Linked DNA regions of Homo sapiens: region 2 is linked to region 1. Evidence: fine-mapped expression QTL. Tissue or cell type: whole blood. Region 1 holds a variant in brackets; the other region holds the start of a gene. All regions are shown on one strand. Distances are from middle to middle.

Evidence for each region. PIP is the estimated chance that this variant, and not a neighbour inherited with it, causes the effect.
Region 2: it holds the start of ZNF703, and the variant in region 1 is fine-mapped to the expression of ZNF703 in whole blood (TOPMed, PIP 0.98).

Annotation. Positions count from the first base shown.
Region 1 is chr8:37,562,310-37,570,484 of GRCh38, reverse strand. All of the region lies in intron 1 of LINC01605 (long intergenic non-protein coding RNA 1605), which reads left to right. LOC105379379 (a long non-coding RNA gene) reads right to left here. Exons shown (of 3, transcript NR_188159.1): 3 at 5,092-5,601. Among named protein-coding and RNA genes, the nearest start is that of LINC01605, 33 kb to the left of the region's middle. The variant C/G (reference allele first, on the strand shown) is at 3,474.
Region 2 is chr8:37,690,764-37,698,938 of GRCh38, reverse strand. It overlaps ZNF703 (zinc finger protein 703), which reads right to left and starts at 3,157. Exons shown (of 2, transcript NM_025069.3): 1 at 2,717-3,157; 2 at 1-1,794. The coding sequence starts at 2,959. The coding sequence ends at 265. It overlaps LOC124901932 (a long non-coding RNA gene), which reads right to left and starts at 5,009. Exons shown (of 2, transcript XR_007060887.1): 1 at 4,939-5,009; 2 at 4,156-4,524. LOC124901933 (a long non-coding RNA gene) reads left to right here and starts at 3,258. Exons shown (of 2, transcript XR_007060888.1): 1 at 3,258-3,499; 2 at 3,956-4,194. RefSeq lists enhancers at 2,226-2,768, 2,769-3,312 and silencers at 3,047-3,146, 3,197-3,546, 4,334-4,518.

The DNA.
Region 1 (8,175 bases):
GGGCCAGGGAAGAATATGATTGTCCCCGGGATGTCTCATGGCATTCCCCCGTCCAATTTTGATAGGAAATGGACAAGTACAGCAGCCATATCCTGAGAAGGGCGCGGTGACCCTGGGCTCAGTCCCCTCAAAGATGTGGGTTTGGGTCACCCCACCAAGTAAGCCACTAGATCAGTAGCGGGGGCTGAGGGGCATTTAGAATAGGTAGTAGAGGAGGGGGATGGTGAGTATTGGTTGTAACAGTTGGGACTGGAGTTTGATTTCTCTAGGAAAGGAGATCCAATGAAATCCTGCAGGAACTGTTCCCAGGTGGCGTGACTTAGACTAAGTGAATGAATCCCAGCAGCACTGTGGACTGTGGACTGTGGACTGCGGTGGCTGCTGTGGTCTATCTTCCATGCAGCTCCCTTCAGCTCCTTCCATAAACTCCTTTGCCTGCAGCTGCAGGTTTATTCTCTGTAGATGATTCATAGCTGTGTTTCCTTTTCCAGAACTTGCCCTCTGCTGAAGGTGCTGCCTCACCATGAGGTTATACTCCTACCTCAGGGATCACAAGGTGGCTCCCTGAACAGCTCCTTGCTGCCATTTTGTGATGACACCATCTTTAACACCTGGCTTCTGAAGTCTCATGGAGAGGTCTCTATCCAGGGAGTACATTGGATACTTTCGCGGTCTCTGTGGACGGGGAGACAGCACACTGGAGACTAACACCATGTTGGCCTGGACATGATGCATGACCCTTACGCCCATGTTCCATTGGTGAGACCCAGTCGTGTGGATCGCACTAGCTGCATGGGCTGGGTTGTGGGTGTGGGTGGTGAAAATTGTAGACTGGGCATCTGCTCCCCAGAAGCAACTCAACATGGTGTTGGGGGAGCATGAATCTTTGGTGGTCAGTAGTTTTTTCTACCACACCATCCTATGCAAAGCTGTGAAGTAACTGAAGTTTGTCTTGACTTCTCTATCCAACCCATCTCCCCGCAGCCTTCCAATTCCCAGGCTCCTGACCTCTTTTTTTTTTTGAAGACGTGCTCTCAGAGAGCTGTTAAATAACTAACCAAGGAATTAGCTGGTAACCAGACAAGCAACGTAATACCTAGCCCTTCCTAGGCATTTGGTTTCTCTCCCTTCCCAATAGAAGCCCTTCCAAAGCTCCATGCCTTCACTAATGCAGTGACCTCTGTCTGGAGCACTGTTCTTTTCTGGCTGTGAAAGGGCGATTCTTCTTACCCTTTAAGATCCAGCTCACATTATTATTATTACGATTATTATTTTGAGACAGAGTCTTGCTCTGTTGCCCAGGCTGGGGTGCAGTAGTGTGATCATAGCTCACTGTAGCCTCAAATTCCTGGACTCAAGCGATCTTCCCGCCTCAACCTCCCAAGTAGCTGGGACCACACAGGTGCATGCCACCACACCCAGCTAATGTTTTAGTTTTTGTAGAGATGGGGTCTCACTATGTTGCTCAGGCTGGTCTCAAACTCCTGACCTCAAAGTATCCTCCTGCCTTGGCCTCCCAAAGTGCTGGGATTACTGGGATTACCATGCCCAGCCCCAGCTCAGATTATTAAAAAGTTAAAAACAAAACAAAACAAAACAAAATAAAAAAAACCCTAAACAGGTGTTGGAGAGGATGTGGAGAAAAGGGAAACTTTATACACTGTTGGTGGGAATGTAAATTAGTACAACCTGGATGAAAAACATTACGGAGATTTCTTAAAGAACTAAAGATAGAACCACCGTTCAACTCAGCAATCCTACTACTGGGTTTCTATCTAAAGGAAAAGAAATCAGTATATCAAAAAGATACCTGCATGCGTATGTTTATCGCAGCAATATTCATGATAGCAAATCATGATAGCAAATCAGCCTGTGGAATCAACCTGAGTGTCCATCGATGGATGACTAGATAAAGGAAATGTGGCATATATACACAATGGAATAGTATTCAGCTATAAAAAAGAATGAATTCAGGTCTTTTGCAGCAAAATGGGTGGGATTGGAGAACACTACATAAAACAACTCAGACACAGAAAGACAAATACCTCATGTTTTCACTTATATGTGGGAGTTAAACAATGGGTCCATATGGAAGCAGGGTGGGGAGTGATGGAACAGTGAGGTCGGGGAGTGAGAAGGGTGGAATAATAATAATAATAAAGACTGGATCAGAATTCAACCCCTCAGTATTAATGACCCTTTGTACACCTTTGAGTTATAGCATTTATCACACTGTTGTATAAACAACTGTTGACTGGAAGCCTGTTTTTCCAGGGGCAAACATAGTGCTTAATTCACAAGGAGGTAAATGCCCACAAGAGCAGTTCCATGGGGTCGGGGATTCTTTTTTCACTCTTCTATCCCTGGGGCCTAGGACAGTGCTTGGACTTGCTCATTATTCGTTAAGTGAACAATCTGTTTCTGCCCCAGCACAGTGCCTGGCATGCAGTAGGCACTCAGTTATTGAAGGACAGCATTTGCAAGGTCAGAAGTGTTTGCTAATCCTTGCTAGCAGTGGAGTTTCAGATACTTTACTTGAAGGATCGTTTTTTTCTTTAAAGATAATTTTGATTCTGGAAAGTCCCTCTAGGTCTTGCTCAAATTATTCTACCTGGATGCACACGTATGTGACACACACACACACTCTCCTTTATTCTCCAGCCCTCCTAAATCCTTTTGAAGACAGAGGCCCAAGGAAATGAGTTCTTGTAAAACCATTTCCTTATTTCTCAGCCCGGTGAAGATAAACCCTGTTGGGTTGAGCTGCCAGATTCTGTGCCCCATCACTCCCACCCTGGCCCGGGGCCCCCACCCCCAGGGCTGGCTCATCCTCAGGCCAAGCTGTTCCCACAAAGACACCGAGCCTGAGACTTAAATTGGATTTGCCTGTGGCTTTGCGCTCTTCATGTCCTCCCGCCTTCGTTTTTGATTTATCGTTTTAATCAGTCCTAGTCAATCATTCCCTCTCTGTCTTGCTCACCATAAACACAACCCCTTGCCAAAAAAATTATGAATGTATTAAATGATTTTATTACAGTAAACTGCAGATTGTACCATTGTAAACACAGGTGCCGTTCCAACCCCACACCCTCCAACTCTGTCCAGACCTGCAGGGGTGCCTTGGAGGGAGGGAGGCCCTGGGGCCTGAGAAAGGGACCATCTCTGGGAGTCTGAGAAGCAGGAGGTCATTTGGTTCAACGCTTCACCACAGATGGAAGAAACTGGGGTTCCGGTTGGTGAAGCCACTGGTCTCAGGTCACATAGACACTTTATTGCAGAACCAGGGTCAGATTTGGGGTCATCTGATATTTAAGACTCCTTCCCTGACACCCTTCTGTTATCCTCTGTCTTTCTCCTCTTCATTTTAGGCACATTTCACTCTAGGACAAATGCCAGTGGAGGGAGTGGGAGAATTTGAAAACTGTAATTGGCCCGAGGCTGTATACACACCGTGGGCCTTAATCTTTTTGTCC[C/G]GCAGGTGGGGTAAATGTCTTCCTGCCTCGCATCCTGGGACGGGGTGGTGGGGACTTCCCCTTCTCTAGGCTGACAGCCTCAGGCGTTGTTTTGGGGACAGGAATGGGGAAGTCCCTGGGAAGCAGGAAGGCTTTTCCTGGGATCAGGCCTTGTGGAAGCTGCACAGACCAGAGCCTGCTGCTCGGTGAGGAGGGGCGCTTTATTCTGGGATGGCTTGGCAGCTCTTGAAGGCTTGGGAACCTGTTTCCAGAGTGGCTAGCCCAGTCGCTGATGCAGCCATGGAGTCTGGTTTCTTTTGGTGCAAGAAATGCTTTGAGGGTAATTTCACTAGTGGAGCTAATGTAAAAATTTTCTGTTATTGACCATGAGAAATATTTTCTAAACAAGTGATTGATCACGTGAAGAGAGACTCAGAGAAGTGGACTCCTAAGATAGAACTATTTGGGATAACCTATGGATGATGTCTCTTCCCCAGTGGGAATTTTCTTGGCCGAAGTTATCCAGCCCTCTGGGAATCAGTACATGAGTGACACGTGTGCACACATATGCATATGTAATACATGGTTAATATGTATACATGTCTAGTCTTCACATCTGTTTTTGCTGGTTCCTGTTTGTTTCTTGGTTTTGACACATCTGGGCCTCCATAGTAAACAGTTCCAATATTTACCAAGCAGCTCCAAAGGTTACATTTGTTTCCCAAAGTTTTTATTCCTCCTTCTTTTGGGTAAGTTTCAGCTCAGAAGAGAAGCTGTTTTTTTGCTGAGCCTGAGCTGCATGAGCGAGGCAGGAACACAGACCCATCTGTTGGAGATTGGAACATAAATAGCCCCTTTTAAAAATAAATCTCCGCTTTTAACTCCGTAGATAAAAATATCTGAATAAAGGACAATTCTTAATCTCTACCTTCTCCCCTGCTTGACTCAAACGTTTCTAAGTGGAGATTTTTTCCCCCTTCTCCTTTTACAGGTTTCATTTTGGCTTTGATTCTAGCGAGTTTACTGACAGATTACTTCATTTTAACTATATGGCTTTTCTGTCTAGTGGGAGGCATATTTCTAAGTATCATATTTATCAAAAGAGCTCTGCAAAACAAGGGCCAGAATTACTCTTTTGATGGTTCCCCCTCTAACTACAACCACAATAAATTTTGTGAGAAAGAATGTTCAACTGGGGACCTTTTATGTTAAAGCCGAGAGCCTGGGTTCAGACATTGTCACTTTCAAACCTCCACCACTTGGGTTGTTTTTTCCCCCTCTTCTCCCCTCCCCGGGCAGAAATCTCACATCTGGTCTCACTTGTGAGGCTGGTCCTTCCCTCCCAGGGGCGCCATATTTTTCCCTCTATAACTTTAAATCAGAGGAGCATTTCAGTAAATCACAGGGAACACTTATTTATTGGACATAGTTTTGGGTCTCTTAAAGCATGGAAAATAAGTTTAATGGAGCGTTCGGAGCATTTCTCCAATCTTTTGAGGGATTACTTGGAGAATTTGTCAACTGCGCCAAGCCCAGCAGCAAGATCCAGAGAGACGGGAAGGAAATGATGGGAGAATCTTCTCGGAGGACCCAGGTGGATCCTAAATCACCCCCAGAAAGATGAATATGAGAGGACCAGTTGCCAGCAAGATTGATAGGCAGCATCGCCATTTATTTAAGAAACTATCATTTCAGCGGGAGGATGACTTTAATCTGAATTATATTTTGCTTTTGTCGTCTACTCTTGCCAAGTGATTTATAGAACACCGTAGCATGCTTCTTAACCTCAAACAATGGTGGAGGGAGGTGAAAAGGGGGGCTGGAGGAAGGAAAGAAAAGAGGGAAGGGAGCCTCTCTAGGGGACTGAAAACCTTGAGGAGAATGTAAGAGCAGGGCAGAGAGAAATTAATGGTGGTGGCCTGGTTGCGTGGGCAAACTTTATTTGCGATGCCCTTCGGTGGGAAATGAGGGTGGATGGGCTGGTCTTTCTTCCTCAAGGGAAGTAAATGAGAAGAAGCGCCTCGGCCTTTAGGAACCCGAGGGCTTCGTGCTCAGGGTGGCAGGGACGCTTCTTTAGAGGAGGAAGATGGAAGGTCAGGCTGCTGACGTAACTCCCAGGAGGACGTGCTTCTCATTCAGGCTGGAGCTGCTAGAAGAACAAAGGGCTGTTAATGAACGCAGACAGGCTTTGTTTTTGGAAGCAGAGGAACGATGACATTACTATGGTCATTGTGAGTTTTAGCTGCAACAGCTGCCACACCTGGTCCCTGAAACGATGGGTCTGAAGGGTCTGACTTGTCCTCATCTCAGTCTTGGTTAAGAAGGAAGAGGGCAGACGTTCTTGTTTTTAGGCTAAAATGGGTAAAGTGAGGTACAAGGTAAAAAAAAGCAACAGCTGATGGAGATGTTCAAGCCACAGGAGTGTGCAGTAGGAGGCCAGGGACACAGCGGGGTCCTCTTTCTGGCTTTCGTGCCCTCAGGGTCCCCGTGCGCTGGAGGAATTTGGCCCCAGATGTCCATTCACTGTGTCTCTGCTGTCCTGCAGAAAGGGGTTCCTCTCTGATGTCCTAGTCTGCCAATGTGAGCTCCTACTGACCCCAAAGCAGCCTCCTCCTCCCTGGCCCTTTCACTCTTTGCTCTTCCAGCTTGGACAAACCAGTCCTTGCCTGGGGCGTCCTGGAGAGCCAGGGAGGAGGGCCTGGGGTTGGGGAGCTCACAGAAACATGGAGGTGGTGGCTGCAGGAATGAGAAAAGGGTGGACTGTGGGTGTGCGGCCGGATGACCTGAATGTGTTGGGCTAGGTGAACCCCGTGGCAGTGCTACTCAATCCAGACTCACAGAATAGTGCGCAGTGGGACCTCCGTGTGCCCCCAGCCTCCGGGGCTGTCAATTTAGATGGGTTGGTAGGTGTGGCTGTGGAGGAAATGGTCTGGAGCTTACAGAATTACAGGACCAGGGTTTCATTGGTCAGCAAGCCCTGAAACCCTGACCATCAACTATCTTCTTTCTGGCTTTGCATGCATGTTCCTCCTGACTGCTGAAGATCCTCCAGGGTCTGGCTTCATCCAAATTTTCAGCCTTGGTTTTTTCCTCTCCTCCCTCTCTCTCGACTCCAGCCCCTCACTGTCCCGCAGGCACACTAGACTTCAGTCTGCCTTCTTCCTTCTGCTTTTGTGGCACCTGTCTTTCTGTCCATCTATTCAGTGCTATATATGCTTCAAGATGGAGACCAAATTTTATGTTCTCCTAGAGTGTGTCTGGACCAATTAGCATTCTCTGACCAGCTTGCAGACCCCACCACACTCTTTTTTTTTTCTTTTGAGACAGGGTTTCCCTCTGTAGCCCACGATGGAGTGCAGTGGCATGATCATGGCTCACTGTAGCCTCGACTTCCTGGGCTCAGGCCATCCTCCAACCCTCAGCCTCCCAAGTAGCTGGGACTACAGGTACACGCTATCACACCTGGCTAATTTTTTAAAAAATATTTTTTTATAGAGACACAGTCTCCTTATGTTTCCCAGGCTGGTCTCAATCTTCTGGGCTCAAGTGATCCTCCTGCCTTGGCCTCCATAGGTGCTGGGATTACAGGTGTGAGCCACCGCGCCAGTTGCCCCACTGTACTCTTCAGCATGAAACGCAACACTGTTTCCTATTGCCCCTCTTGATCCACTCCTCGGTTCCCTGAACTGTCCCATATCCTTACTGCTAAACACGGGGTTTAGATGGCTGATCTCCAAGGTTCTTAGCAGTTGTAATGATATAGGGTTCTCTGCTTTGTCTCCTCATCTGGACTGTAAACTCCTTAAGAGCAGGGAGGGTATCTTTTCCTTGCACCAAATCCCTCAATATTCTAGCCCTGAGTGGGTATTCCACAGAACGTTTGTGGATTGAGTCTATTTGAGTCCTTTTTGCCACTGGAAGTGGAAGGAGTGGGGAGCAGTGGCTTAGATGCTTTGGACGCCTGGTCTCGTAATCTAGCCTGCAGAGACTTTGATATGCAGTTGGTGGATGGGGTAAAAATCACCATGCAACTCTCAGTGTGTTCTGCCCCAGGGAATCTACACTGAGAACTCTACCCAGCACAGGGAGAGGAGAGGACTCACTCACTGGGCAGGCAGCTCCCTGCAACATTCCATTTTGTAGCCTGGTAGAAAAAGCACTCACTTTGGTTCAGACCTTGGTTTGTCCACTTCCTGCCCATGAGACTTGAGCTGGGTCACTTGATCTGAGTCTTGTTTGCTCACTTCTAAAATGGCAATTCCAAAACCAGTATTGCCCCACAGAAGAGTTGTGTGGGAAGAGCAAGATGACATGACATGGAACATGTTCTGTGCATTGTGAAGACAACAGCGGCCGAGGAGGTATGAAGTGCCGTTACAACATCTCAACATGAGAAGTAAAAACGTAAAACACAAAAAGAGAAGACCAATGGCCCCTCTCTCCCCTCTCTCACTATTGGACAAAGAACCATCTGCCTCGCCTTTGGATAATATGCTGTGGAGCCTCCCCTCTCCTCCAGTAAAAAAAAAGAAAAGAAAAGAAAAGAAAAGAAAGTCAAGTGAGAGGGAACATCCTGGTATATTCTGAAAGTTGACTCTGGGAGGAGAGGAAAACATGAGCAAACAAAAGCTGTCATTCACTGGCAAGCTGCTTCCTCTGGGGATTAATCTCTGTGAAGAAAAATTAAAGATCTCAGCATTGCCCTGAGCAGGCACACAGGCCA
Region 2 (8,175 bases), 130 kb before region 1:
TTATTTGTGGGATTAATATTATTATTTGGGAGAACACAGACTTTTTGCATACCATTGACTCATGTGGGCCGTTAATGCACTTATATTCCCAGCTTGTAAGCTAACATTATAGTAAATAAATACACAGTCCGGTGGGGAAGGGCTGGGTGGGGAATCCCGGCAGGGTCAAGCAGTAGTGGAGGTTGCAGCGGCGACGGCAGGTGGGGAGGGAGGAGGAGGGAGAGGGAGGAGGGTGAGGGGGCTGGGGTGGAGGAAGAGCTGTAGTTACTGGTATCCCAGCGCCGAGGCTGAAGCTAGTCTCTGTCCATACAGCGCGTATGGCGAATAGTAGGGTCCGGCTGTGGGGAGGGACGGCACGGCCAGGCCCCCCGCTGTGGATAAGTGGCTCTTGCCATAGGGGTGGTACCGGCTTAGGCCCAAAGTGTGTGGATTCCGCAAGGACAGCGACCCGGGGCTGCCGGGGGCGGCGGGCGGGGGGAGGTGCAGATGGCAGGAGGCGGCGGCGGCGGCGGCGGCGGCGGCGCTGCCCAGGCCCGAGGCCCCGGGGTAGGCGGCCAGAAGTTTCTCGGCTCCCGGCAGGGCCGTGTGGGTCCGTAGGTGGCTGAGCAGCTCCTCCGAGGTGGCGAAGCGCTTGTCGCACGGCCCACTGGCTGCCACCCAGTTGCAGCTGTGCGGCAGCGGTTCGTTCTGCAGCATGAAGCCGTAGGTGTAGAGCGGGTGGCCGGGGAGCGCGGCCTGGGCGGCGCTGGACGAGAGCGCGGCGGGCTGCAGCGGGTGCCCGGGGTACACCAGCGGGTAGCCCCCCGCCTTCAGGCTGGGCCCGGCAGGGTCGTGCGCGCTGCAGGTGGAGCAGCTGGAGCCGCCGAGGTGCGAGGCGCCGTGGTAACCTCCCAAGCAATAGGGGTCGCGGCATAATCCCTGCAGGAAGGAGGGCGGGGAGGCCCCGGTGAGCGGGCTGGAGCTGGGGGGCTTGCCCGGCGGCAGGCCCAGGCCCCCAGACAGCTGGCCTCCCACGAGGCCGGACTTGCTAGGATCCAGGCCAGGCACGAACTGAGACGGGTAGCCGGCGTAGGCGCCCACGATGGAGCCGTGGTAGCCAATGCTGGAGGGCGGCAGCGGGAACACCGAGTGGCCCGGCTTGTAGGGAGACACCGGCGCCACGTGGCCGGCCCCCACCAGCGCCGAGGGCGGCTCGGACTTGCGCCCGGAGGCCCCGGACTCGGCGCCACCGTGCGCCCCGGGCTCCCCACCGCCGCCGCGGCTCACGGCTGCCGGCTCCGGGCTGGGCTTGGGCTCCTGGTCTTTCTTGTCCAGCTCCCCGCCGCCAACCCCGCCGCCGTTCTTGCAGTCAGAGTGGTGCGGGGAGCCGCCGCGGGAGCCGCCGGGCGACGACGAGGACGAGGATGCGGAGACCGGCGCTCCATGCGGGGGAAAGGGCGGGCAGGCGGCGCTGGGGACCCTGAAGCCCGCCTTGTCTCCCGGGGACGAGGAGGACGAGGAGGAGGTGGAAGACACCGAGGAGGAGCCGCTGTCTTTGCGGGAGTCGCCGCCGCCGGAGCCCTTGGAGTAGGGCTTGAAGCTGGACTTGTCCTCGGCCGGTGAGTCCCCCAGCTGCTTCAGGGCCGCGGCTGCGGAGGCGGCGCCCGGGGCTGAGCGGCCGGGGTCCTTCTCCGCTCCCAGCCCGTTGGCCGCCGCCGCCACCGAGTTGAGTTTGGAGGAGGGCGGCGGGTCCGGCTTGCCGATCTGCGAGCAGGTCTGAGCCAGCAGCGCCAAGGGGCTCTTCTTGGCGTCCAGCTGTGGGAGACAGAAGCAGGGGGAGGGAGAAGGAGTGAGACTCAGAGGCCTGCGGGGCGAGCGGGGGCGCCCGGGGAGCTGGGCGGCGGCGCCACGGGGCGGGGCGGGCCTGGGGAGAGGGTCTGCGAGCGAGGGCCGGGCCGGGCGCGGCAGCTGGCGGAACTGCGCCCACACTGCCGCTGGGTCCCGGGGTGCGCCGCAGGCCCTGCGGAAGGAGTTCACCCAGGACCCCTGCGGGAGAAGGTGACGTCTCTGGAGTCGGGGCTGTGACTCGCCACTTCCCTCTAATGTCCCCCTCCTCCAGGCCCAGGAAAAAACTTATTCCTTTAGTTTGGGGGAACTTCGCTTGGGACGGGTTTCTGGCGATGGCGCCGCGGGGTAGGAGAGGGGAGCGCGGATTCTAAAGGAGGGGCTGCAGTTGGCGCTCTCTCCGTAGCCCCTCCCTCCCGGGGAGGGCACCCAGGGAAGAGGCAGGAAGAAAGATCCGGGATCGGGAGCGCCAGGGCGCCGTGCGCCCTCACCGGATGGGACAGAGGCGAAGTGGGACCCGGGCAGCCAGGGCTTCAAAGAAAACAGCCCGGCGTGGGGGGCGGGGAAGACCCAGCAGAGACCAACTCCTGGCTGGAAACTGGGGATCAGAGGAAAAGTAAAGGACCCAGAGGGGACTCCAGGAGCAAATCCAATCCGAGAGAAAACACGGAGCTCCGAAGGGCGAGCGTGGAAGGAGACCCTTCCACGGGGAAGCCTGGGGAAGCCCTGGTGGGCTCTGATCCCTCGGTTTTCTTCCCCTCCTCACTCAGCCCGCCAGCGTGACCAGACTTGGGTGTCGCACCGAGCCCCGGGGCGCTGGGAGCTGGGTCAGGGTCCCGGTCGCGGTGGGAGGAATGGGGCCGGCGCCCGGGGGCAGCGGCCGGGGACTGACCTCAATGGGGCTGACGGGAGTGGAGGACAGCGGCTGCAGGTACTCCGGGTGCAGGAGGTGACCGGTGTGAGCGCTCAGCATCTTCAGGACCCTGATCGGGAGCCGGTTCGCCTGGCGCAGGGGGTCCGCCGGTGGCAAGAGGGACACCGCTGCCGGCACCGCCGGCCTCTTCCCGCCGCCGCCGCTGCCGCTGCCGCTGCTTTCGGGTGTCCTTGGGTTAGATCCAGCGGGCGAATCGCTCATTTGGAGGAGGCAGCGCCGCTGGGGGGGCGGGGAGGGCGGGGGAGCACCGGGGAGGCGAGCTCCCGGGGCGGGTGGGCTCGCTCCGCAGCGTCGATCGCGGTGCAGCGGGAGCTGCGCCTCCTCGCCGCCTCCCCTCCTCCACCGACGCCTCCGCCGCCGCCGCCACCGCCGCTGGCCCCGGCTAGCAACACAAAAACCTTCGCCTTCCTCGAGCCGCACGTCAAATAGCCGCGATCGGCAGCCACACTTCAAAGGGATCGCCGCGCCCGCCCAATCGCAGCTCTCGCCGGGACCCCGGGGCGGGGAGAGCGGCGGGCTGAGGCCGGCTCCATCGGTGGGCGGGGAGAGCCTTAAAGGGGCCGCGCCGCGCGCCGCCGCTGCCTCGGTCTCGGCCGCTCCCGGGATTCCTCCCCTCCCCCCGACTGGGCCTTCCTCGCCCTGGGGTCCCCCGCCTGGGACGGGACTTCTCCGGGACCCTGAGCTCTGCGCCCCGTCCTCCTTTCCGGCCGCTCTCTCTCCTCTCTCCCTTCTCACCACTGGGTGGGTGGGGGGTGATGCTGGCGGGGGCTGTAACCCCGCCCGCCGTGTGTGTCCGAGGTGGGGTGGGGTGGGGTGGGGTGGGGTGGGAGGGATCGCACGGCGCGGGCTCTGGGACGCTGGAGTTCAAGCCTCTCCCAGAGGCCGCCTGGGGGCAGGCCTCGCCTCGGGAGCCCGGGTCCTTCTCCAGAGCTGCTCCGGCTCTCCTCGGCCCCGCTCTCCTTCCCCTACTTGGCCTCCCCTTGGTGTGTTCACTTGGAAGCGCCCGAGCCTCGGAGGCACCCACTGTTCTCGGGACGCGGCGTAGGCAGCTCCAACTACTTTGAGCCCGTCTTGTCTGAAGCCTGCAAGTTTGTCTCCCTTCTGGAGTGACATGGTCGGCGACCAAGCGCGGGACCCCAGGCTGTGCGCGCTGTGCCTGCGCCCTGCGTTAGAGGCTCGGTGTCTGGTGTGTTACAGGCTTCTTACCGTGTCCTGCTGAGGGGCGTGAAGTTCCTCACTGTACCGCGCCCAGCTGCTACGAGGAGAGACCGAGATCACGGGCGAGGCGGGTGTCCCTGGAGGGGGATCTCTCTCTAAGCGCTGCTCGGCAACACAACCCCTCCGCCCCCCCATCCTTCTCACTCCGGGGGAAAAAGCACTTGCTTTCCCCAGGCAAATTTCGGGATAAAAACTTTTAATTAAAAATAACAATACCCTTCCCGACTCCCTGCGCCTTTCTGATACAGTGTGCATTGCTAGCTTCGCCCTGGGCAGAGATTTTACGTAGTCATAGTCCTGACATCCAAGTTCCGGATCCGCCGCTTTTCCGGAGGCGAAGTTGGTCCTTTGGGTGCCGAACTCTGGGGAGCCCACTTCTCCGTGCGCTCGGCGGCCAGTGGAGGCGCGCTGGTGTCACTGCCTGGCTCCCAGCACCACTTTTCCAGTCCCGATCCATCACTCCGGTTGTCAGGGCTGTCACTCGGGGCGTATTGCTCTAGGATGGCAGGTTCCCGACTCTGCCGCGCTGACCGACGCCTTGAGATGACCTGAGAACCCAAGATGGGGAGAGGTGATTTCAAAGGAGCTCTTCAAACAGAAAGAAATAGCTATCACGAATCTGTATCTTGCCCAGTAGTAGAAGACAGCAGACCCCACTTCCAGGCAGTATCAGTCATACCCAAAACTAAGTGCACTCCCTGGATCCATACTGTATTTTGGGCAGCACTTATAGAATGCTTAGAAATTACACAAGCTGTAATTACATGTTCCCCAATTTTAATCTTGGTAAAATCATGTTACGCCGAATGGAAAGGGGTACCCTGACTGTGAGATGGATCCCACATTGCAGCAAGAGGGGTGCGGGAATGAAAAGGGAGGGAGTGATCTCATTTATTTCATCGTGGCAGGCTTCTCATGCCGACTTCTGTGCGGGCAGCCATTGCCATCACTGCAAACACCACCTGTAAAAGTCCACTGCAGGGCTGTGTCCACCCACAAGCCATTTTGCCTTCGGGAGACTGCTGTGTAGAGCGGGAAGGGCAGAAGGAAGCCAGGGTGCAGAGAGGCTGGCCTTTGCAGGAACGCAGAGGAGGAGGAGCTGGGCAGAGGGGAGACCTAGGAGGCTATGAAAGATGAAAGTCTCCCTGATTATTGTAACCAGCCCAGCTGTGAGAGGGAGCCAAGGGATCCTTCTAGGGCCTGAGCAGATGTGTGTTAGAAATGATTAATGGGAAATAAGTCAGGAGGAAAAGGGGAGGGGAGAGGGAAGAGGTATTTAGGAATTTGGAAAACAGAGCAGGAGGCAGCTGAAAGGAGAGAGGGGAGAAGAGAGAGGACAATAGAATATTCACTCTCTGTTTGGAGAGGAAAAGAGAAGGAAAAAGGTAGTGAATGAAGGAAAGGAAGGGAGAGAAGAGGAGGTAAGGACAGACTGGCAGGATGTGATGGGGGATTTGCCTAGGTAATACTATACTGTCCTGTTAAAAACACCTCACTCCCTGAGCTCCCAGTGGTAATTACTGACGGGCACACAGATTGGCCTGCTCCCACCTCCTGGGAAGTGGTAGGACACACCTCTGAAAGCATGCAAGGCGGGAGGGACACACTTTGAGCTGCTGGTCAGGGCAGCAGGGTTTCTTTGGCTGGATCCATCCAAACGTCTTAGGAGGGAAAATGAAAAACCATGCATAGCCAGGCCAGAGGCCTAATTAAAACACTGCTAGATGATTATTACAATTGGGATTCACCATTCACTTAGCTAAAATGCTAACCTATACAGAGCACTAAATGGGGCCCTCGGGGCCTGAAGGCAAGTGTAGTTTTCAGAGGAATGGCTTGTCACCTGGGAGGGAATGTGGCTCTGTATTCAGATGGGCTGTGTTTATGGAGGGCGATGTGGTTGGAAGGCCCGAGTAAGACATCCCTGTTCAGGACATATGACACAGGTTCTCCCTCTGCAAAAAAGTGGCAGATGCGTGGCTCAGGGGCCTTCCACTGTCCAGGTCCTCCTCAGATGGCCCTGGGAATGAGCGGCCACCATTAAAATGGGACAGGGGAGAGGGCTGCCTGAGAGTGCCCCCATGACACTGTGGTGAAGAATGACAGTTCGGTATGTCAGGCGCTTAATAAACATCAGGTGTTGCTATCATTCTCAGTTCAAGCTGAAGAGAGTCAGGCCCAGAACCAGGCTGCTGTGGGGACCCCGGGCAAGTGAACCTCCCTAAGCTTTGGTTTCCTCCAGGGTAAAATGGAAGCGTGGCCACTTCAGAGTTGGGAGACCAGAAGCAGACAATGCATGTCACCTGTTTCATGCTTGGCACAAAGAAAGTTGAAGGTAAATGATGGCTGTAACCGATTGCATCATTTGTGTCTGAGGAGCAATTGCTCAGGGGAGCAGCCACATCAGCACCAGATTTAGCCCTGGGAACCCAAGCAGAAGAGCCCAGGTTGTCTCTGAATTCTACAGAAATGAAAGTAACCCTTCCCCAGCCTCCAGTTCAATGTGTCTTTTTTTTTTTTTGAGACGGAGTCTTGCTGTCTTGCCCAGGCTGGAGTGCAGTGGCATGATCTCGGCTCACTGCAACCTCTGCCTCTCGGGTTCAAGCGATTCTCCTGCCTCAGCCTCCCGAGTAGCTGGGATTACAGGCGTGTGCTATGATGCCTAGCTAATTTTTGTATTTTTAGTAGAGATGGGGTTTCTCCATGTTGGCCAGGCTGGTCTTGAACTCCTGACCTCAAGTGATCTGCCGGCCTCAGCCTCCGAAAGTGCTGGAATTACAGGCATGAGCCACCGTGCCCAGCCCGCAATGTGTCTTAAAAAAAAAAAAAAATAGCCCATCCCTCCCTAGAAGCCATCAAGAAAATCCTTTAAGAAACTGTGAATATGTATAGATTATTTTTTCACTACTTCAATTTACATAAAATTCACCACCCAGGAAAAAATGCTCGAGTCAGGTTAAGACCTAGAGGGGGTAGATTTGTTGTGTGGGGTTAATGTGTAGTTTTCAGTCCTTGCCGAGGCAGAATTGCCTGAATGATCGCCTCTCTCTCCTCTCTCTGCATAACACTCAAACCCTAATGGCAACAACATGAAATAATATCTCACTGGGTAACTATTTACATTTTTTTTTTTTTTACAAGCTGTAAGAACTCTGAAAAGTCTGCCTCATAGAGAACTTGGTTTTCCTCCCTGGCGCTTAATATCTTTCAGCGGCTGGCAATTACTGCTTTGGCCGGGAGCCCTGATTTAGCACACTGCACTCAGGGCACTTGAAGGCGCTTCCTCTGTCTGCCCCATCCCCCGGCTTCAGACACAGCCTGGGGCACGAGAGGGGCACCAGGGAACAGTGGGAGCAAGCAGGCTAAGACCAGGACAGCCAGCCCTGCAGGAAGCCCGCCCCACCGATGACTCAAGAGGCTCCCTCTTCTACATTCTCACAGTTGGTATTATGTTCTATTATTACACCTATCACATGGCATCTGCCACTATTTGCTTCCTTGTCTGATCTCCCACTGGACTGTGAATGCTTCTTGTTTTCCTCATCCTCTTTGTGTACTTATTGCCTAACAGAGCGGTTCACCATCACCACAGTAGCCAACGTTGAGTGCCAAACGCTGTTCTAAGCACTTTGCGTGCATTCTCTCATTTAATCCTTGCAGAAACCTTAGGAGATGGGTCCTATGGTTACTTCCATTTCACAGGCACAGAAAGGTTAAGTAACTTGCCCAAGGCCCAAGCTGGTAGGAGGTGAGCCTGGAGTGTCAAATCCAGGTCCAGGCAGTCTCAGTGCAGTTAGTACCCAGTGAATGTTTCTGATGAACGAAGAATTTTACAAAAATAGGGCTATTTATTTATATCACACCTCACTGTATTCCCAAAAGGTTTAACACGGATGATTGTATTTTTCAAAATGTTGATTGTATAAACATGTTAAAGTACCTTTTCCCAAATGCATTGTTTTTTTGAGACAGAGTCTTGCTCTGTTGCCCAGGCTGGAGTGCAGTGACGTGATCTTGGCTCACTGCAACCTCCGCCTCCTGGGTGCAAGCGATTCTCCTCCAGTCTCAGCCTCCCAAGTAGCTGGGATTACAGGCGCCCACCATCATGCCCAGCTAATTTTTGTATTTTTAGTAGAGACAGGGTTTCACCACGTTGGCCAGGCTGGTCTTGAACTCTTGACCTCAGGTGATCCTCCTGC